Linked DNA regions of Homo sapiens: region 1 is linked to region 2. The links come from fine-mapping of genetic effects on gene expression. A gene starts in region 2. The other region holds a variant in brackets. All regions are shown on one strand. Distances are from middle to middle. Region 1 holds the start of RAET1G (retinoic acid early transcript 1G). Region 2 holds the start of RAET1E (retinoic acid early transcript 1E).

Region 1 (11,632 bases), 25 kb before region 2:
ACTGTGTGGTTGTTGGCGGAAAGTTGACAAGCAACTTCAGCAAAGTCTCAGGATACAAAATAAACATGCAAAAATCACAAGCATTCCTTTACACCAATAATAGACAAACAGAGAGCCAAATCATGAGTGAACTCCCATTCACAATTGCTACAAACAGAATAAAATACCTAGGAATCCAACTTACAAGGGATGTGAAGGACCTCTTCAAGGAGAACTATGAACCACTGCTCAACTAAATAAAAGAGGACACAAACAAATGGAAGAACATTCCATACTCATAGATAGGAAATTGTGAAAATGGCCATACTCCCCAAGGTAATTTATAGATTCAATGCTATCCCCATCAAGCTACCACTGACTTTCTTCACAGAATTGGAAAAACTACTTTAAACTTCATATGGAACCAAAAGAAAGCCTGCAGAGCCAAGACAATCCTAAGCCAAAAGAACAAAGCTGGAGGCATCACTCTACCTGACTTCAAACTATACTACAAGGCTACAGTAACCAAACAGCATGGTACTGGTACCAAAACAGATATATAGACCAATGGAACAGAACAGGGGCCTCAGAAATAACACTACACAACTACAACCATCTGGTCTTTGATCTGACAAAAACAAGCAATGGGGAAAGGATTCCCTATTTAATAAATGGTGCTGAGAAAACTGGCTGGTCATAGGTAGAAAGCTGAAACTGGATCCCTTCCTTATACCTTATACAAAAATTAACTCAAGATGGATTAAAGACTTAAATGTTAGACCTAACACCATAAAAACCCTAGAAGAAAACCTAGGCAATACCATTCAGGACATAGGCATGGGCAAAGACTTCATGACTAAAACACTAAAAGCAATGGCAGTAAAAGGCAAAGTACACAAATGGGATCTGATTAAACTGAAGAGCTTCTGCACAGCAAAAGAAACTATCATCAGAGTGAACAGGCAACCTACAGAATAGGAGAAAATCTTTGCAATCTACCCATCTGACAAAGGGCTAACATCCAGAATCTACAGAGAACTTAAACAAATTTACAAGAAAAAAAAAACAACCCCATCAAAAAGTGGGCAAAGGATATGAACAGACACTTCTCAAAAGAAGACATTTATGCCGCCAACAGACATACGAAAAAATGGTCATCATCACTGGCCATCAGAGAAATGCATATGAAAACCGCAATGAGATACCATCTCACACCAGTTAGAATGGTAATCATTAAAAAGTCAGGAAACAACAGATGCTGGAGAGGATGTGGAGAAAGAGGAACGCTTTCACACTGTTGGTGGGAGTGTAAATTAGTTAAACCATTGTGGAAGACAGTGTGGTGATTCCTCAAGGATCTAGAATTAGAAATACCATTTGACCCAGCAATCCCATTACTGGGTATATACCCAAAGGATTATAAATCATGCTACTGTAAAGACACATGCACATATATGTTTATTGTGGCACTATTCACAATAGCAAAGAGTTGTCCATCAATGATAGACTGGATTAAGAAAATGTGGCACATATACAACACAGACTACTATGCAGCCATAAAAAAGGATGAGTTCATGTCCTTTGCAGGGACATGGATTAAGCTGGAAACGATCATTCTAAGCAAACTATCACAAGGACAGAAAACCAAACACCACATGTTCTCACTCATAGGTGGGAGTTGAACAATGAGAACACATGGACACAGGGCGGGGAACATCACACACTGGGCCCTATTGGGAGGTGAGGGGCTGGGGGAGGGATAGCATTAGGAGAAATACCTAATGTAAATGACGAGTTGATGGGTGCAGCAACCGAACATGGCACAAGTATACCTACGTAACAAACCTGCACGTTGTGCACATGTACCCTAGAACTTAAAGTATAATTTTTAAAAATTATTTAAAAATTAAAAAATAAATAAATAAATAAATTTTAAAAAATAAAATAAAAATCATATATCAGGTAAGGGACTGGTATTCTGAATATATAATATTGCAACAAAATATAATTGCAATTATATATTATATATAATATATAATGTTGCAACTCAACATTATAAAGTGAAATAACCCAATTTAAATATATGCAAGGAATTTGAATAGACATTTCTCCAAAGTAAGACAGGTATACTACACGGTGGTCTCAAAAGAATAGAAAATTTTGGGCAGCAGTTTCAGGTGACTAGCAAAAGGAATCTGTTGAAATATGTGCAGAGGCTCTGGGCTGATAAGATGCTGAAAAACAGCATGTGGACCAAGCTGGCTAAGAATGACTGGACCCAACAAGGCCCTGCATTTGACCTAGGTTTCACCTAGGACCTCATTACATGCTGATTAACATACTAAACACACACCAGCCAGCTCCTGAGCAGTTCTGAGAACACTTATATTTAGTGTAAAAATGCGGGGCACCACAGTTCTGAGAAATCTCTACCTTCTTCCAGGAATTTTCATGAATATTCCACTCCTTGGTTAAAGAAACCCAGAAAGGTGGCAGCCCCAAACTTGCACCTGCTTCTCTCTCGAGTTCCCCTGCACTCCCTTTACTTGACTGTGTACTTTGCCTTTTACAATAAATCTCCGTCCTTTCTCTATTTCCTACTGGTCCTTGAATTAATTTCCCCGGCAATATCAAGAATCTGGACACTGGCTGGAGTCGAGGTCCCACCGGCGTTTGGGGACCTCCCCTTGCCCGCTGGCATCAGAAGAAGAATGCAAATCGCAGTGAGCCCAGGAAAAGGTGTTCAGTGTTCACAGCCCTCAGGGAAATGCCAATCGCACCCACAAGGGGACGCCTCACCCCGCTGAAATGGCTGATCCCAAACACAGTGAGGGTGGAGGGGGTGGGGCCTGTGTTCCTTACTGGGCAGAGAGCAGGAGACGGAGAGTCGGTGGAGTGTGGGGGCTGTGCGCGTGTCCCCCTCTCCCCATTTTCGTGGTGGGGGTTTCTCATTGTTCTCCGGCCCTGTTTCCTTCCTCTCCCTTTCTGCCGCCCTCCCTCCAATCCTTCTTTTCCACCCATCCCAAGGTTTTCTCCGCCTCACGACGTCCATGCTAGGGCCTCCCAGACCAGCGGAGAAACCAGCAGCCCTGGACCGCAAGCGGCGGGGTCAGGGAGGCGACAACGGGAAGCCCCTGCCGGACCCTGGACACTCAGGACCTAGTGCTGCCCGGGCGCCCTCCCGCAGCAGCCCCAGGGCGAGGAGGATGGGGGGGGTCCTCGCAGGGGCCACACTGTCGGAGCCCCACGGATCCGGGCGGGACGGTGAGGCCTCCACACTGAGCCGGTGGCAAAGTCCCCGCGAGGATGAAGGAGGAACCCCGTGCTCCTCACCCCACCAGGCCCCGCATTTCCTGGCTCCTCCTGTCTCAGGAACCGCCTGTCCCTTGCCGCGACCGGCGAGTCCTTCCGGGTCTTCCTGAAACAGTTTCGTCCCGAGGCTCTGGATCTGGAAGCCCAGGGGCATCGTCCGGGAGCGGGGCACCCACTGTGGGTCTCCGCCAGCCAGCACTCAGGCCCGGAGCTCGGGGACAGCGGGCGCCCTGGGAGGAGCACACAGAACCATATCAAGGCTTAGGTCCTGTCGAGCTCTAGAGGGTTTAGCAAATTCAGGTCTGTTTCAGACTGTGTCTCTGGTCATAAGGAACCCCCACGGTGCGTGGTGTGCAGACAGCAGGAGCTCAGGCATGTGCGGTCCTCACATTTGAGTGGGGCAGCAGATTGGTGGCTCCAGATGCTGTGTGTCAAGGAGAAGGAGATTCCATCCACTGGAGAAGAGCAGAGGAACTGGGTGTAACCCCAGGAAGGAGAGGCTGCCAAGGACTGTGTCGACCCAGAGGACAATGCTGGAGTTAATTCCCAGGGAAGGTGCCTGGGTCACAGCCTTTAAGGCAGACGCTGACTGAAAAGACTGTATACAAGTAGGAGGTCAGGTCTCTGGGAACCCTCAGAATACGGCTCAGTCCTGGGGCAATGCCCCTGCCATCCGGCCTCCTGCACACTCCAGATTCTGGCCCTGCCTGGAGCAGAGCTGACTCGGAGACAGGGGTACTGAGCTGCTCCTGGAGTTCCAAGGTCACTGCTGAGCTGGACCAGGAGTGGATGGGGCGGGGCAGGGACAGTCTCATTCAGAGCTTTGGGTACAGCCCTAGGGTGAGAAGAGGCTGAGAGAGAAGGGGAAAAGAGGATATTGCCTGAGTGGCTGGGGGCAGAATGGGACCCAGGGGCTCTGTCCAGTCCTCACCCTAAGCTAAGCCCTTCACAGCTGCCAGGAACCACTGGGACCCTCACCTGTCTCTGGCTTCTGCCACCACTTCCAGATGCCCTCATGATAATTAAGACAAGGATACAATTGGGGTTTCCTTTTGAGGATGGCCGCAGGGACC[G/A]TCCAGGGACTGAGCAGAGGTGTGGGTGCAGCCATGGATCCAGGCATCAATGGTTGGCCACAGATGGGTGTACTGCAAAGTGAGCTCCACGCACGCACAGACCCCTCCCTTGCCTCCTGCTCCCATGGGAAACACAATTGATCACATTCCAATTGAGCAACAGTAGGCCACTAGGGCTTTTTTCCCTCAAAAGCTGTACACAGATCTAGTATAGTCTCAAAGACCTCATGCTTCTAGTAGAGAAGCAAAGAAATGTGTGAGCATTTGTCACACAGGGAGATCCGGATACGCTCCATCACTGTGGATCCAGGCCTCAGGGAGCAGGAGGGTGTTCCTTCATGTGGGAAGATGAGGGACACACATGGGAGGGGGTATTTGTGCGCGGCTTGGAAGGATGGCTGGTCCTTGCCCAGGGGGAACAGGCCCAAAGCAAGCGCTGGCAGTTAGTAGCTATGGGGAGCTTTCATTTGAACCTGCTCTGCTGAGTCCCCTGGGCCATCCCCACACCTGGTGGGGCACTGTTCTAAGGGGAGCTCAGGGTCAATCTCTCTGATGTGCTTTCTAAATCAGCAAGGTGCCTCACAGGTTGTGATTTTAGAGACAAGGTTTTCAATGCTTTGCATTAAAATGCAAAGATTTTAATGAGCAGAGTCTTTTTGCCAATCCGAATTGGGCAGATCCCAGCAAGACACATATTTTTAAGATAATTTTTAAAGCTGTTTAATTTTGGTAAAAAAGTAGAACATAAAATTTACTATCTTAACCAATTGTTTAGTGTACAATATCTTCTTTGAAGCTTCTGAAGACCTGGTGCTTCTGTAATAAAATCTAGCCCCGGGCCAGGCGTGGTGGCTCACCCTTGTGATCTCAGCACTTTGAGAGGCCGTGTCGGGCCGATCACTTGAGCCCAGGAGTCCAAAGCCAGCCTGGGCAACATGGTGAAACCCCGTCCCCACTGAAATACAAAACTTAACCGGGCTTGGTGGCGCGCACCTGTGGTCCCAGCTACTTGGGAGGCTGAAGCAGGAGAATCGTTTGAATTCGCGAGGCAGAGGTTGCAGCGAACCCAGATCGCGCCGCTGCACTCCAGCCTGGGCGGCAGAGCGAGACTCTGTCACGAAGAAAAAAAAGAAAAGAAAGAAAAACCAACCAACCAAACAAACAAACCTAGCCCAGGCTATAACCACGTCCACTCGGGATTTGGGATGAGGCCGCGGGGATGGGACTGGGCTTGGATCTGCGCACAGGACGGTGGGTTGGGAGCACTCTGCAACGCAGGGAGAGGGAAGGCGGGTGTCGCAGGTACAGGCGAGGACAGGGAGACCCTGTCGCGGCTGAACACTTCTGTGCATTTTCTTCACCTTTCTGTGCATCGGTATCCACATTGGATTAATACAAAATGAAAAAATTGCGGTGATGATTACATGAGGGGGTCATGGAAAGAAGCCTTTGGCAGGACTGGTCCCGGGCAGGCAGCCAGCAAAGTCTGACTGGCTGAAGCAGGGGGAAGTGCGCGAGCGCTGCAGTAGAAAGTGGGGTAGACTTGGATGAGCAACTTGGCTGAGAGACACCTGATTGGCTAGCGGCTCAGCAAAGGGGGTGTGTTTCCTCCGAGGGGCGGGGCAGAAGGAGTGCTAGAGTTTAGGGCTTACTGGAGTTTAGGGCTGCATTCAGACGGGCTGCATTCAGACAGCCTGCGAGCCGCCAGGTGATCCACGGGCTGGGCTTCGCTTCTGCTGTCCCCTGCGATCCAACTCCCCAATGGCAGCGGCCGCCAGCCCCGCGTTCCTTCTACGCCTCCCGCTTCTGCTCCTGCTGTCCAGCTGGTGCAGGACCGGGCTGGCCGGTGAGTTCGGGGATGGAGCCTAAGCGGGGCGGAGGCCAACCGTGGGGGGCTGTGGACTGTGGGCTTCAGAGGAGGGGAGGCTTCTGGAAGGACCCGTGCGATCACCCCGGACTGCGCCCCCGCTCAGTTTCCCTCCGCGTCTCCTTCCCGCCGGGTCCGTTCCCAGAGGCTACTTATCCTCCGAGGGGAGGAGCTGGTCAGAGAGGAGGCTGGAAAGGAACCCCCGGAGAGTGGAGGGGCCAGAGGGCTGCAGAGGGCGACGTGGAGCGGGGATCCCTAGTGCAGCCCGGCAGTCCCACCCGCCCTCGGGAAGGAGAAACCAGAGCCCCCAGAATCCGAGCTGGGGTCAGGACAGGGGTGAAGTGGGGTTGCACAGGGACACAATCACAGACACTCCCACCAGCCACCAGCCTGCTCTGTTCTCACCCGCTCTCAACCACACAAACCTTCCAGCACCCCCAGGGCTGCGTGCCCTTGAATTTTTCCCTGCACTTTCCTGTAGACACTCACCTGCACCCAGCGGCTCAGCAGACACTTCCCACCCTCCCCTCACCATCCACTGCCACCACCCAGGTAACATCCTCTTACTCCCCACCTCAGCCCAGCTGGTCACCCCAGAGGTCTCCCCATCCATGAAGGGGCCCTCGCGACCTCTTACACCACGTGACACCTTCTGCCTCTTGCCTGAGGACACACCCCAGCAAACACACCCCAAGCTCCCCACAGAACCTGTGCAGGGGGGATGGGAAGCACCATTTCCTCCAGGATGACCCTGGGAACTCTGGTGAGTAGAGGCACCCACTTCTGCCCTTGGGGCCCAGACCTGCCTGTTCTTCCTACTGGGGCGCCAGCATCATAGAGAATAGTCAGTGTGTAGACAGGGGTCAGCAAACCCTTTCTAGAAAGGGAGGAAGGATGCCCTGTGATCTTTGCAGGCCTTGGGTTCTCCGTCTCAGTGTCCAGTCCTGTCCCTTTGCAGAGCAACAGCAGGCAATGGCAACCTTCAAATAGGGGGGACCAGATTTGGACCCTGTCCTAGGTTGCTGACCCTAGATGAGGGGATTACAGTGTACCAGCAAATAGTACCCCATCCCCTATGGTGTCATCTCCAAGTGGTGTCTCAGGTGTCAGTTGGAGAGTAGAAGGTGGTCCTACCTTGCCTGTGGCTTCTGGGTGGTGTGGATGTGATGGGAGTGGGGGTCCCATGGTTCAGGGTCTACTCTCCCCTCCTTTGCTGCTGAGTGGCATCTATGGTCCACGGGGGCCATCAGTGACCTTCCCTGAAACCTGAGGTGTAAGCTGAGGGTAAGGGGGTGCAGCCACGTGGTGTCCTGGGAATCGGGGCCAACTGCTTGTGCAGCTTCCCGGTTCCCTGTGGCCCTACTTCTGCCCATCCCAGGAGAACCACCTGTGTCTTCTCACTGCCAGACCTCTCTTCCTAATGACCTAGAGGGTGAGGAGCCCACCCGTAATGGGCAGCTCTGAGGCTGGATGGTCACGGCCCTTCCATGGCTAAAGGCCCCATCTCTGCCAAGGCCCAGTACTCTACAGGAGACACTTTTTAATGTTGAGATTTCCTTGCTGTGAGTGGCGTTGCCTTGCCTCTGAACATTCACATGGAATCTATGTTGTGATTCTCCAATTAGACATTGGAACCACATGCACCTCTAGGATCTTAGGGGGTCTTGGGTCATTGGGCACTTAAGGCAGGTCCAGCCTCGCTCATTCATGGATTGCCTGTGGCTGCCTTTGCGCTTCAACAGCAGAGCTGAGTAGTTACAATGGAGAATATATTCCCTGCACACCTTTACATGTTTACAAAATTGCCCTTCATAGCAAACTCTAGTGGCCATAAATACGTTTGGAGAAGCCCACAAAGAATCATTGCACTTGTTGCGGGGTTAAAGGGTCCTTCCTCACTGGAAACTGGTGTCTTCTTCTAGTCATGGGTTCACGGTCTGAGAAGTGGCTTTATTCTGCAAATTAGGCAAAGCAGCCTTGTTCTTGAAGGACTGGCTACTTTCAGCCTCCTGGTCATCCATCATTTGTTTTATCTCTGTTTCTTGTAATTATTTAAATCCAGCACTATTCAGGTTGGGTTTCCATCTCTTCTGGATCTTGGACCCCTTTGTTCTATGAGCCATGGGCATAGCTTTGTATGACTGAGGTCTCCAGCTGGCATTGTGACTTCTCTAATCATTTCCATCATTGCACCCTCCTTGTTCCTGACAGTTGACAACCTCCACCTGGAATCTGTTATTTCGGGATTTTTCATCCCATTACTACTGGGAGCCCATTTCAGGAAGAGCATCTCCTACCCCCAACCCTGGCCTTCAGCAATAGGCATCCCTGAGCTTCATCCCATTCTGGTGCCTTCTCATGGGGCCTTCTTTATATGCCAGGTAAACAGGAGTCCTCCAGGCTTCCCATGAGCACAGCAGATGGACATTGTTCTGGATTTTCACACTCAGACCCCTCCAGCCTGGGCACTTCTCTGAGCCTGTGATCCCTCCGTCTACTGCCTGCCTTAGATTTTCAGATTTTTCTATTTCTTGCTGTGTGGACCATCCCTTTGTCCAAGGTTTCAGGAAGGCATCCTCATAGTAGATGAGCACCACCACCAGGGGCTTTGCCAACGTGTTAAATCCTGTGACCATGATAATTAACTCTTCTTTATCCAACTGGGTTCCATCCTCACTCCGTCCCACCATGCACCAGTATCCTCAGGTGCAGCTCCCACACCCTGTCCCACCTCCCACAGTCCACGTGGGCTACTGCTGAAGATCCTCTGTCATCCAGGCCCTTCCTCCTCTAGCACTCCTGGCACCTCTCTAGCAAGGTCCTGTGTTGACCGATGTGGACAGAGGGGCAGTGGGACATGTCTGGGGACATGTGGTTTCTCAGCAGGCAGGGACCTCCTCCTCCTCTTTGCCCTCATGGAAGTGGGGAGCACTCGCCTTAATCTTGTGGACACCACAGTTCTGGAGGAGGCACTCCTTGCTGGGCCAGCCCAGCCCTCCAGAGGCTTCCTCTTATTGTCACAGTGTGGAGGAGGGGTATCTAGGGGTCTTTTCCTCCCCACCCACCCCTCACCTGCCTTTCTCCACAGACCCTCACTCTCTTTGCTATGACATCACCGTCATCCCTAAGTTCAGACCTGGACCACGGTGGTGTGCGGTTCAAGGCCAGGTGGATGAAAAGACTTTTCTTCACTATGACTGTGGCAGCAAGACAGTCACACCCGTCAGTCCCCTGGGGAAGAAACTAAATGTCACAACGGCCTGGAAAGCACAGAACCCAGTACTGAGAGAGGTGGTGGACATACTTACAGAGCAACTGCTTGACATTCAGCTGGAGAATTACATACCCAAGGGTAAGTTTCAGATGGCCCAGGACAGCAGGGAGCAGATACAGTGGTAGGTTAGAGGCATTTATAGTTTTCATGTAAAAATACAAATAGGAAGGTCATCTCACCCCGCAAGACGTCTAGAGGCAAGGCCAGGATGTGGCAGAGCAAGTAAGACCAGGAAATTGCAAGTGGAAGAGGATGGGGGCTCAATATCTGTCAAGGCCAGAGCTGATCTCTCTTTGATGGGGGCAGAACCCCTCACCCTGCAGGCCAGGATGTCTTGTGAGCAGAAAGCCGAAGGACACGGCAGTGGATCTTGGCAGCTCAGTTTCGATGGACAGATCTTCCTCCTCTTTGACTCAGAAAACAGAATGTGGACAACGGTTCATCCTGGAGCCAGAAAGATGAAAGAAAAGTGGGAGAATGACAAGGATATGACCATGTCCTTCCATTACATCTCAATGGGAGACTGCACAGGATGGCTTGAGGACTTCTTGATGGGCATGGACAGCACCCTGGAGCCAAGTGCAGGAGGTAACAGGAGAAAAAGAAATGGGGATCTCCAATGAGATCAGAAATGGGGATCTCAAGAAACTAATTCTTGAGTTCAGCTTCAATCATCCCAGTGTACACGTTTATGTTAAAATGACCTCCTCGTGGGGTGCTCCTCCTGGGGGTGCTGGCGTGCCTGTGCTCTCCCACCCTCCTCTTCCTTCTCCCTCCTGACTCCTCTTCCTCACTGCACTTGCTTCTGTTCCCCACACTGTGGATTTCTCACCAGCCTCGAAACTGCAGGTGTCACTATTTTCAGGCCTTTCTCCTTAGTGTTCCCTCTTGAGAATCACTTTTCCTTTCCTCCTCTGGTCTGTTTCTGGAAATCCATCAAAACCTCCTCCAAGGCCAGCCTCGTGACCCTCCCCTCCCGCACCCTGGAGCATCACCTCCTCTTCCGCCACAGCAGGAGGGTGGGCTTTGCTGTCACCTTGCTTCCCTCAGCAGCTCTGTGAGCTCCCTGAGGCCAAGGGACACCCCCTCTCCCTTCCTACCCCAGGAACTCTCCCAGGGGCTGCCCCATAGCAGAGGGGACAAAACCTCTGCCTTCCAGGATGACCTGGGTCAGCAGGAGCTGAGGAGGCATCTCCTCAGATTTGGGGCCTGGACAAGGGTTGTCACTCTTGTGCTTCCATTTCAGCACCACCCACCATGTCCTCAGGCACAGCCCAACCCAGGGCCACGGCCACCACCCTCATCCTTTGCTGCCTCCTCATCATGTGTCTCCTCATATGCTCCAGGCACAGTCTGACCCAAAGCCATGGCCACCACCCTCAGTCCCTGCAGCCTCCTCCTCATCCTCCCCTGCTTCATCCTACCTGGCTGCTGAGGAGAGTCCTTTGGAGTGACAGGTATGGGGGCAGAATTGGGAGTGGAGCAAAGGGCAGGTGGGTGAGGAGGGAGGACAGGGATGGAGAATTCCCAGAGTCCCACTCCCTATGGCTGGGACCTTCTCATCCTAACATGAGACAGGTGAATGAGACCTTGTGTTGCTTGTTGGAAATGACCTGGGCAGCTCTGCCCTGAGTTCTGATGGATTCTCACCATCAAAGGCCAGAGGGAAAGGCGCAGTGGTGCCATACCAAGGCTCAGGGTCTGTTGAGCTTGAGAGGGTTTAGCAAGTTCAGGCCTGATTCAGAGCAGGTTTCTGTTCAGGAAGGGTGTGTGGCCTGCAGGCAGCAGGAATTCAGACATGGGCAGTCCTCTTAATTGGGTTAGGTGCATCAGGGTAGCTTTACATGAGGTATGACAAGGGAAGGGGGATTCCATCTCTGAGGCTAAGAGAGAGATATGTGTGGGCGGCAAGCCACCCAGGTGCCAAGGCAAGAGACTGAAGGCACAAGCTGTTCCAGTATAATAAAGAAAATACTTAAAATAAGAATAGTTGTATTAGACGTAGAATACAGACATGATTATCTATGAATATTATCAATCATTAGTCTGTAGTGTTACTCTTTTTTCCAATGTTATAATAATCTCTGTTCCACAATTATAACCCAGGAAAAACCAGGCCATGCAGAG
Region 2 (11,632 bases):
CTGCTGCCCTGCCACAGCCAGGAGCCATTTCAACCGTTTTCAAATGTACAGGCATCTATTTAAAATGGCAGTATCTGTGCCTGCTCAGGCAATCCTGAACCTTCTTAACCTGAACTTTTTCCTCCTAAAGCAATGACCACTTTAAAACAGACAGTGTTAGCTTTTGATTGCTATTGTAAGAAATTACAAATTTAGTGGCTTAAAATAACACAAATTTGTTCTCTTACCATTCTAGAGATCTGAAGTTGGAATGGATCTCAATGGGCTAACATCACTGTGTTGTCAGGGCTGTTATTTCAGGAGACTCTCGGGGAGAACCTGTCTCCTTCTCCCCTTTTCCAGCTTCTCCAACTGCCCACATCCATGGCTCAGGGCCCATTTCCCCATCTTCAAAGGCAGTTCCATCAGATTAAGTCCTCACTGTGCCCCTCATCTGGTTCTCCCTCTTCCGTCTGCCTCTTCCTCTATAAAGATCCTGTGATTACATTGGAACCCCAGGGAAATCCAGAAAATCACCCCGTTTCCGGGGCAGATGATGAGCAACCTCAACTCCATCTGTAGCCTTCACTCCCTTTTCCATATAACCCAGTGGGGGGTTCCAGGGATTCACACCGGCATCCTCTGGGATTGGCGGGAGTGGGTGGGGGTGGCAGGTGATTATTCTTTGCAAAACACATGCCATATAATTTATGTATATATCATTTTTATACCACAAAGATGGGGGAAGAAGCAGAGCAATATTGGAGCAGAGATTTTGCATCCTGTTAAAATTAAGTTGGTTTTAATATGATCTAGGTTGTGGTAAATTAAGATATTAATTGGAATCCCCTGAAATGACTAACAAAATAACTTTTTTAAATAAAAAATGAAAAAGAGACAATAAAGGAAGTAAAATGATGCAGTAGAAAATATCTGTTTAACACAAAACAAAGCAATAGTGGTGGAAAAGATGAAGAAAATGACATAGTGCATATGGAAAACTAAGAAAAAGGTGGCAGACGTAAATTCTGTTCCACCTTAGCAGTAATTCCCTTACATGTCAAAGTGATAAACATTCAAAAGAAAAAGCAAAGATTCTCAGAATGCATTTAAAAAATGATCTAAAGATACAATGTAGATCCCAAGATACAAGTAGTTTAAAAGTAGACATATGGAAAAGATAAAACACATCCATAGTAAACAAAGACAACTGAAATTGCTATTAATAATATCAGGCAGAATCATCTTTAAGACAAACAATTTTATAAACATTCTAAGAACCAATCAACGAAAGGGAAACTCACAAGGAAAATTAGAAAATACTTTGAGATGAATGGAAACAAATACACAGCATACTATGATTTATAAGAAGCAGATAAAGCAGCACTTAAAGGAAAACTTACTGCTGTAAATGCCAGTATACTGAGAAAGAACAGGACAAAGAAAGGATTATGTCAAATTAATAACTTGATATTTCACTTTAAGAAACTCAAAGAGCAAAGCGACCTAAGCCCCAAATAACAAATGGAAGGAAATAAAAATTGGAGTGTAAATAAATGAAATAAAGAATAGAAAAACATTGGCAAACTCAATAAAACCAAAAGTTGGTTCTTTGAAAAGATCAACCAAATTGTCAAACCTTAACCTAGAATGACTAGGTAAATGGTGGAGGGATAAAACTCAAATGACTAATACCAGGAATGAAAGAAGAAACATCCCTACCAACTTTACAGAAACAAAAAGGATTATAAGGGAATACTATGTACAACCGTATGTCAATGAATTCAAGAACCTGGATGAAATGAACATCTTTCTTTTCCATTTATTTTCCAGTTATTATTGAGCCACTTTTGATTGTATCCTCCCTTCTCTACCAGAAAGGACAAAGGTTGATCACCAAAGACAATTTCAGACTCTTGTCAGGCCTAGGGACAGCAGCAGAGGCACCACAAGCTTCTCTGATGCCATAGATTGGCCTTCCCATGATCTGCCACTTCTCTAGACGTTTATTGTTTTCTGTTGAAGATGCTGGAGCTCTAAGCCAGCACTTTAAGGATTACTTGTTTTCTCCAGGTGTTTCCTGTGTATATACAAGAGACGATAGATAGATAGATAGATAGATAGATAGATAGATAGATAGATAGATAGATAGATAGATAGATAATAAACTCCTGTTTGTTTGTTTTTTTCATGAAAATCATTTTTCCTCCCCGCCGTACAAAGGCTTGTCAAAGGCACACTAATGAGCAGCTGATTGGGCTCCTCCAACCGATGAACTCTGTGTTTGGCTCTGTTTGGAAACACACTGAGGAGTCCAGCCTCTTTGGCTGCCACAGGATACATTTCCAGAAACACCTGTTAGGCGTCTGTGGATGAGGAAGGCATCAGGCCTTCCTACCTGAAGCCTTATTGACTCCTGCAAGTGCTAAAGAAACCCCTGGGGACAGGCTAGGCTGCCTGTTCCTACTGGATTTTAGGCCTGGAGACTTCTGGTGGGGGCAGCCCAGGCAGGGAAATCAGGAGCTGTGGACAGGGAGTGGAGGAGATCAGGAGGGGATGGCAAGACCCCCAGCCTGACCCCAGTCCCCAGTGCCCTCTAGCAGCAGAAATAGGAAAAGGAGGTTGAGGGCAGGCAATACTGCAACCTCCTGTGCTGAGCATACAGATAGGTCCAGCCTGGTGGCCCCGCACCTGCAGATTCAAGGCAGCCCTGCCCTGCACTAACCCTGCACCTCCCAGGCCCACTGCTCTCCCACTGTGACCCCATCCGGAGACTGGTCTATCTAAAGACCAGGACATTGACCAGCAGCCCAGTGCTCTGCTCCACGGCCTCTGTCAGGCAGGACGGAGCTGGAGCCCAGGCAGAGATAAGGACAGGGGAAGATGGCCCTTGTCAGCCAGGGATGTTCTGTCCTGCTGGGCATGCGGCCTCTCTCACAGAGAACCTACGTGATCTTGCTTCCCCCACTTTCTTATCTCATAGGCCCTACATATTTGCCAGAAACACCTGCATTCCTAACTCTTTGCCAGATGTCAGGGGCCAGCCGCCAGGGGAACTGCGTGGCAGAGCCCCTGTGCCAATGGCCAGAGAAATTCAGGAGTTCCCAGAAAACAGAGGGTGCTGGAAATCCAGGTGGGAGAGCTGCTCCTTGTGCCAAGATTTTCCTCAGAGGCTCCTTCTCCGGTGCCCTGAGCAGGGCCAAGCCTGGCGAATATTAGAATTTCTGCTGGGCTGAGAAAAAACAGCAAAAGGAGAAGCAGTCTGGGGGGTGACTTGGAGGTGGAAACTGGGTGCGGTCAGAAAAGTGAGTGGAGCCTGGAGGCCAATGAGCACCCCACCCTGGCAAGTCACAGCAGGACAGGGCAGGGGACCAGGCATAGAATTGGGCCAGTTGTAACCTGCACAACCTGGAAAAGGATTTGTATTTGTATTTCATGTACCCATTGGGTAAGGTGGCATTTATCTCCAGCTTCCTTGAGGTGAGCTCAGTTTAGGAAGTTTCTTTTCGACTGAACTGTGTCAGGAATCTCGCCAATGCCTGATGCTGCCCACCACATCTCTTTTGCTGCTGCTGTGGCTGGAACCTGCCTGGGAGGCACCGGCTGTGAAGGCTGGAGACCCAGGGAGGCTGCCCTGACACCTCTCCTTGTTCCCTGAGCCAGGGGGCCCATCTGAGCCCCTTCACCCCTGGGGAGCTGTTTTCTGTGCCTTGTATGAGGTTTTTGTCTTCACAGAAATGGCATTCTAGTAAGAGATAGAAATTTTAAATGGATAGATATGTAAATTATATGGTATGTGTGTTGGGCAGAAGAATTCCCTCTCCAATCCTCAGGATGGCAGATCCAGTCCCTGGAACCTCTGTGTTGGGGTACATGGAAAGGGCGGTGAAAGCTGTGGATGGAGCTGAGGTGGCTAATCAGCTGCCCTGGGAAAACCAGCCATGGAGGGGTAGTGTTCTCATGTAAACCAGGACTCAGCCTGGTGGAGCTGCCTTTGAAGATGAGGAAATGGGGTCCTGAGCCATGGACGTGGGCAGTTGAGCAGCTGGAAAAGGCAAGGAGGAGACAGGTTCTCCCCGAGAGCCTCCCAAAGGAACACAGCCCTGACAGCACAGTGATGATAGCTCCGTGAGACTATTCAGACTTCTGAGCTCCAGAATGGTAAAAGAATGAATGTATGTTGTTTTAAGGCACTAAATTTGCAGTAATTTGTTGCAACCACAATTAAAAGTTAATAAGGTTTGTTTGATTGTTTGTTTATAGGGATAGAGTCTCATTCTGTTGCCCAGGCTGCAAAGCAGTGGCGTGATCTCGGCTCACTGCAACCTCCGCCTCCTGGCTTCAAGTGATTCTCCTGACTCAATAAGCTGAGTAGATGGGATTACAGGCACTGGCCACCACACCCGGCTAATTCTCTTATTTTTAGTAGAGACAGGGTTTCAACATGTTGGCCAGGCTGGTCTCAAACTCAACCTCAGGTGATCCAGCCTCCCTGACCTCCCAAAATGCTGGGATTACAGGTGTAAGCCACTGTGCGCGGCTTACTAAGGTATGTTTTAAAGTGGTCATTGCTTTAGGGGAACAAGTTCAGGTGAAGAAGGTCCAGGATGGCCTGGGCAGGCAGAGGTCTCCCATTATGAAATAGAGGCCTTTACATTTAACAGTGGTTAAGATGAAAAATCACGTTACATGAATCATACCACAATTTTAAAAAAAGAAAGAAAGAAAGAAATACAAGGGTTCCAAATGCGAGGGGCAGGGAGAACCAGGCGTGGAAGGGTGTGCCACCTGGGAGCAGGAGTGGGAGTGAGCCGGGCAGATGCCTGAAGGGCAGTCCATGCTGAAGGGAGGGCAATGCAAAGTCCCAAGGCACGGGGACATCTGCAGGGCTCTGAAGACCAGCAAGGAGGCCGAGGGTGGAGGTCGGAACTGAGCGAGTGAGGGGGCATAATGGACAGCTGGCCAGACTGTGCAGGGCTCTCTAGGCATCTGTAGTGACTTTGGTTTTACTGAGAGAAAAAGGGCACTTTTGGAGAATTGGAGCAGAGGGGGGCGTGAGTGATGAGGTTCTGAAGATCACTCTGGCTGCGCTGTAGCCATTTGGGAGGTGGGGACAGGCACGGAGAACCAAGTAGGGCAGCACTGCAATCACCCTGGCCAGGAGGACGGTGGCCTAGAACCAGGGTCGAGTACTAGATGACAGTGTGGTCAAATCATAGATATTTTATTTCTAGTCCAAAGAAGAGATAAGAAAGAGGTCGAGCAAATAGGTGATTTTTTTTTTAAATTATTCACAGCCTTATAACATAACCTCTAAATCTTCAGTAAAGTTGGCTACATTCACAAGTAGCTGGTGTCACTTTGGTGGGGGCTTTGTAAGGAAGTGGGCAGGGTGTCTTTTAAGGAAGACTCAGGAGAAGTGCTGGTCTTCCAGTTGCAGAGGGGAATGGAGTTGCAAGAAGAAAACAGCGAGGTTCAGTGACACACAGTGCGAACACGAGCTCAGGGGGCAGGAGCTCCAGGTCTCAAGAGGGCAGGACGATAATGCAGTGTTTGCACAGAAACCAAGCAATAGAGGGAGCCAGCACCCACCAGAAATGAGGTAGGGCCGCTGTCACAGCTATGCCAGGACCTGCAGAAGCCTAAACCCTGAAAAAAGGTGGGGGCCCCCACCTACATATCAAGGAAAACATATGTATGCCATCACATGCTGGTCTCCAACAACTGCTAAAATTACATTAAATCCTTTCTAGAATTTCGTGGCTGGGACTTGAGTCTGGTCTTGGTCCTTCTACTGATGGTGAATCCAGTACTGAATTGGATCCAATTCTGGACGAGTTACCCTGTCCTAGAATCACTCACACGTGACAGTTGACAGGTGGCCCCACCCGGTTTGCATGGTGGACGGGTGTTCTGCTAGGCCGGCCTCTCCACACCCAGAGAGACTGAACTGGTTTCTGCTCCTCAGAGAGTTTGCACAGAGACTCTGAGGAAGCAGTCACCTCAGGCCTCTCCATCCTAGAGACGGCAGAAGGACAAACATCTCCTGCTGGCACAAGGTAGGGGGTGGGGGATGGCTGGTGTTCCAAACACCCGTGCAGAGGGAACGTGTGCATGTTTGGGAGTGAAGGAGGAAAGCAGGGGCTCGAGTGGTGAGAGAACCAGGGGCAGATAATGAAGTAAAAGTGGGGTTGGGGGAGATGCTGGGGGTGTGGCGGCGGGGACGCTGGATAAGGCAGGGAGGACGGGGTGGCTCTGCGGGTCCTCTGCCTCCACACCAAGCACTCAGGGATCCGTGCCTCCTTCCAGTCTGGAGTCCCAATCGCCCCTCTCTCCAATTTGGGGGACAGGGATTTCTCCTTGTTCTCCTGCCCTAACTCCTTCTTTCCGACTTCTCTTGTCCCATTCTCCCTCAGATCCTCCCTTCCGCTTATGCCAAGGCTTCCACAGCCTCGCTCTGCCGGGCCTTGGCATTCCTAGCCTGAGTGTTGAAACCATTGGCCGGGACCTCAAGGCAGCTGGGGCAGGGAGAGGACGGTTAGAAGCCCAGGGCACACTGCCACAAAAAGGCTGTGACTCATTTTCAGGGATTGAAAACTGCAGTCCAATTCATTTTAAAATTTTCGTCTCTCTTTGGACTTCAGGCTGAAAGTTCTTTATAGCAACGGGCTTCCAGGGACTATGTGAAATTATTGGTTTCACTTTCCTTATCACCCGCTTCTTACTTCAATTAAAATTCCATTTCAGCCGGGTGTGGTGGCTCACTCCTGTAATCCCAACACTTTGGGAGGCTGAGGGGGGAGGATTGTTTGAGCCCAGGAGTTCGAGATCAGCCTGGGCAACGTGATGAGACCCCATCTCCACACCAAAAATTTAAAAATTAGCTGGGTGTGGTGGCTCATGCCTGTAGTGCCAGCTATTCTGGAGGCTGAAGTGGAAGGACTGATTGAGCCTGGGAGTTCAAGGCTGCAGTGAGCCGTGCTCATGCCACTGCACTCCACCTGGATGACAGAGCAAGACCTGGTCTCAAAAAACAAAACAAACAAAAATCTACTTCATATGTAACCATTACTTCAGTTTTGAAACCATTGCCTGAAGCTGACATTTTGCAGTTGGAAAATGGCTATTCCTTCCCATCTTCAGGTTGGCTCAGGCCAAGCTGAGATTCAGGACCACAGAGGGCAACAAAGGTGGAAGGGCCCCTTTCCCCTTTCTGTATATTTTTCCCAGCCTGTCTGCAGCTCTTTCTTTTTCTTCAGTGTTAGGTTGGCATCCCAGATGTCAGGACCCAAGTATAGGCCTGGTGTGCTCCTTCCTGTGAGTCATCAGACTTGTAGAAAATATTGGCCCTGCTAAGGAGCTACTCAGTGGTCATATCACACATATGCACGCACACACACACAAGCACCCATGCACACACACACACACACACACAAACACACACATACACTCTGTTCTTGGCCCACCCCCGCTGGTGTCCCCACAGCAGCAGTATTGGCAGGGCGGTAGCAGTGAGTTCCTCTCTGTGTACTCTCAGGGCCTGGATGTGTACAGAACAGGCTCCACTCAGGACAGATTTGAGACCCCTTCTCCAGACCAAGAGGTGGAAGTGCACCCTCAAAATTGAGGTTCTTTAACCTTAGCAGACAGAGAACCACATAGGGGACATGTAAAAAATGTGCATTCCTCGGCTCCTTCAAACGCTTGACCCACTGTCCTCTGAGCAGACAACCCCTTATCCCCCAGCCCCAGAGATAGAGCCCTGCCGATAGTCCATGGTTACTTTCTTTGAAGTCTGTTCCATCTAGTTAAGAAAGGACAGTGGTAAAGACCCACTTACCTTACCAGGCATCATAAGGGCCCTAGCATCTGAGTCACAGGATGTCACCCTCTGGGTCTGACATGCACTTGAATTAACTGGCATACTGCCCGGCACACAGAGGGAACCTAGATGTGGAACGGATATGGGTGGTGTTACAGGCCGCATGTTTGCCTGCCTTCCAAATTCATATGCAGAAATCCTAATTCTCAAGGTGATGCTATTTAGGAAGTCATAACTCATGTGAGTGGAGCCATGTGGGATTAAGAAGTGATAGGAGAGCTTGCTGTCTGTCTCTGCTCTCCACTGTGTGAGGATACAACAGGAAGACAGCCATCTGGTGAGGAAGAGAGGGCCCTCGCCAGATACCGGACCTGCTGACACCTTGATCTTGGACTTCCCATCTTCCAGGAAGGTAAGAAATAAATGCTTGGTGTTTCAGCCACCTTGTCTATTCTGTTGTAGCAGCCTGAACTGGCTAAGGTAGCAGGGTCTGATGATCAAATGGGACAGCTGTAAAAGTGAGGTGGGAAGGGGGTCTACAGATACTAAGTTTTATGAGGAAAACTTGTGCTTTATTTGAAAATGACACAAAATTTTGTTCTAAGAAAAATTTTCAGAATTCAAAACTTAGAGCCCTAAGACTTTTCCCAATGATAGACTTGGCTTTCCTTGAGGTCTTGGCCCCAGTAGGACTGCTGGAGTCTATTACAAAACTCATCTGGAAGGACCTCTGCCGTTGCTGAGGCTTGAGGAAATGGTTTTAAGGTCACAGTGTAAACAAAACTGCTGGGAAGTTGGAACTGGGCGGAGCCCACTGCAGCTCAGCAAGGCTGCTATGGCCAGACTGCCAGATTTCTCCTCTCTGGTCAGGGCATGTTGGTAAACAAGGCAGCAGCCCCAATCAGGGGCTTATAGCAGACTTAAATGTCCCCGCCTGATGGCTCTGAAGAGGGCAGCAGACCTCCCAGCACAGCATTCGAGCTCTGCTAAGGGTCAGACTGCCTCCTCAAGTGGGTGCCTGACACCCACGTATACTGACTGGGAGACACCTCCCAGTAGGGGCCGACAGACACCTCATACAGGAGAGCTCTGGCTGGCATCTGGCAGGTGCCCCACTGGGTCAAAGCTTCCAGAGGAAGGAACAGGCAGCAATCTTAGCTGCTCTGCAGCCTCCGCTGGTGATACCCAGGTAAACAGGGTTGGGAGTGGACCACCGGCAAACTCCAGCAGACTGGCAGCAGAGGGGCCTGATGGTTAGAAGGAAAAGAAACAAACAGAAAGGATTAGCACGTCCCCTCAAAGACCCCATCTGAAGGTCACCAACATTAAAGACCAAAGGTGGATAAATCCACAAAGATAGGAAAAAACCAGTGCGCAAAGCCTGAAAATTCCAAAAACAAGAACGCCTCTCCTCCTCCAAATGATCACAACTCCTCGCCAGCAATGGAACAAAACTGGACAGAAAATGAGTTTCACGAACTAACAGAAGTAGCCTTCAGAAGGTGAATAATAACAAACAACTCCAAGCTAAAGGAGCATGTTCTAACAAATGCTAGGAAGATAAGAACCTTGAAAAAAGGTTAGTCGAATTGCTAATTAGAATAACCAATGTAGAGAGGAACATAAATGACCTGATGGAGCTAAAAAACAGCATGAGAACTTTGTGAAGAATACTCAAGTATCAATAGCCAAATCAATCAAGCGGAAGAAAGGATATCAGTGATTGAAGATCAACTTAATGAAATAAAGAGAGAAGACAAGATTAGAGAAAAAAGAATAAAAAGGAATGAACAAAGCCTCCAAGAAATGTGGTACTATGTGAAAAGACCAAATCTACATTTGATTGGTGTACCTGAAAGTGACAGTGAGAATAGAACCAAGTTGGAAAACACTCTTCAGGTTATTATCCAGGAAAACTTCCCCAACCTAGCAAGGCAGGCCAACATTCAAATTCAGGAAATACAGAGAACATCACAAAGATACTCCTCAAGAAGAGGAGTTCTGAAACTATTCCAAACAATAGAAAAAGAGGGAATCCTCCCTAACTCATTTTATGAGGCCAGCATCATCCTGATACCAAAACCTGGCAGAGACACAACAAAAAAATAAAATTTCAGGCCAATATCCCTAATGAACATTGATGCAAAAATCCTGGCAAACCGAACCCAGCATTACATCAAAAAGCTTATCCACCACGATCAAGTTGGCTTCATACCTGGGATGCAAGGCTGGTTCAACATACACAAGTCAATAAACGTAATCCATCACATAAACAGAACCGATGACAAAAACCACATGATTATCTCAATAGATGCAGAAAAGAACTTTGATAAAATTCAACACCACTTCATGCTAAAAACTCTCAATAAACTAGGTATTGATGGAACATATCCGAAAATAATGAGAGCTATTTATGACAAACCCACAGCCAATATCATACTGAATGGGCAAAAACTGGAAGCGTTCCCTTTGAAAATCAGCACAAGACAAGGATGCCCTCTCTCACCACTCCTATTCAACATAGTATTGGAACTTCTGGCCAGGGCAATCAGGCAAGAGAAAGCAATAAAGTACATTCAAACAAGAGAAGAGGAAGTCAAATTGTCTCTGTTTGCAGATGACATGATTGTATATTTAGAAAACTCCATCATCTCAGCCCAAAATCTCCTTAAGCTGACAAGCAACTTCAGCAAAGTCTCAGGATACAAAATCAATGTGCAAAAATCACAAGCATTCCTATGCAACAATAACAGACAAACAGACAGCCAAATCATGAGTGAAGTCCCATTCACAATTGCTACAAAGAGAATAAAATACCTAGGAATACAACTTACAAGGGATGTAAAGGACCTCTTCAAGGAGATCTACAAACCACTGCTCAAGGAAATAAGAGAGGACATAAACAAATGGAAAAACATTCCATGCTCATGGATAGGAAGCACTAATATCGTGAAAATGGCCATACTGCCCAAAGTAATTTATAGATTCAATGCTATCCCCATTAAGCTACCACTGACTTTCTTCACAGAACTGGAAAAAACTACTTTAAACTTCATATGGAACCAAAAAGGAGGCTGCATATCCAAGACAATCCTGGGCAAGAAGAGCAAAGCTGGAGGCACCGTGCTACCTGACTTCAAGCTATACTACAAGTCTACAGTAACCAAAATAGCATGGTGCTGGTACCAAATATATAGACCAATGGAACAGAATGGAGGCCTCAGAAATAACACCACACAGCTACAACCATCTGATCTTTGACAAACCTGACACACACAAGCAATGGGGAAAAGATCCCCTGTTTAATAAATGGTGTTGGGAAAACTGGCTAGCCATATGCAGAAAACTGAAACTGGACCCCTTCCTTACACCTTATACAAAAATCAACTCAAGATGGATCAAAGACTTAAACATAAGACATAGGACCATAAAAATCCTAGAAGAAAACCCGGGCAATACCATTCGGGATATAGGCATGGGCAAAGACTTCCTTTCTAAAACACCAAAAGCACTGGCAACAAAAGCCAAAATTGGCAAATGGGATCTAATTAAACTAAAGAGCTTCTGCACAGCAAAAGAAACTATCATCAGAGTGAACAGGCCACCTACAGAATGGGAGAAGATTTTTGCAATCTATCCATCTGACAAGGGGCTAATATCCAGAATCTACAAAGAACTTAAACAAATTTACTAGAAAAAAAACAACCCCATCAAAAAATGGGCAAAGTATATGAACAGACCCTTCTCCAAAGAAGATATTTATGCAGCCAACAGACATATGAAAAAATGCTCATCATCACTGGTCGTTAGAGAAATGCAAATCAAAACCAC

Evidence for each region. PIP is the estimated chance that this variant, and not a neighbour inherited with it, causes the effect.
Region 1: its variant is the best candidate, but not a certain one, in a credible set for the expression of RAET1E in nasal epithelium (TOPMed, PIP 0.60).

Annotation. Positions count from the first base shown.
Region 1 is chr6:149,917,504-149,929,135 of GRCh38, reverse strand. RAET1G (retinoic acid early transcript 1G) reads left to right here and starts at 6,015. Exons shown (of 5, transcript NM_001001788.4): 1 at 6,015-6,210; 2 at 9,320-9,583; 3 at 9,812-10,093; 4 at 10,752-10,962. The coding sequence starts at 6,126. It overlaps RAET1E-AS1 (RAET1E antisense RNA 1), which reads right to left. Exons shown (of 2, transcript NR_045126.1): 2 at 9,628-9,949. RefSeq lists silencers at 2,739-2,818, 11,548-11,632 and enhancers at 2,749-3,283, 3,284-3,819. The variant G/A (reference allele first, on the strand shown) is at 4,365.
Region 2 is chr6:149,892,427-149,904,058 of GRCh38, reverse strand. RAET1E (retinoic acid early transcript 1E) reads left to right here and starts at 5,946. Exons shown (of 6, transcript NM_001394057.1): 1 at 5,946-6,038; 2 at 8,027-8,213. It overlaps RAET1E-LRP11 (RAET1E-LRP11 readthrough), which reads left to right and starts at 7,929. Exons shown (of 15, transcript NR_182438.1): 1 at 7,929-8,213. The region is part of intron 1 of RAET1E-AS1 (RAET1E antisense RNA 1); the gene reads right to left. RefSeq lists a silencer at 5,392-5,686.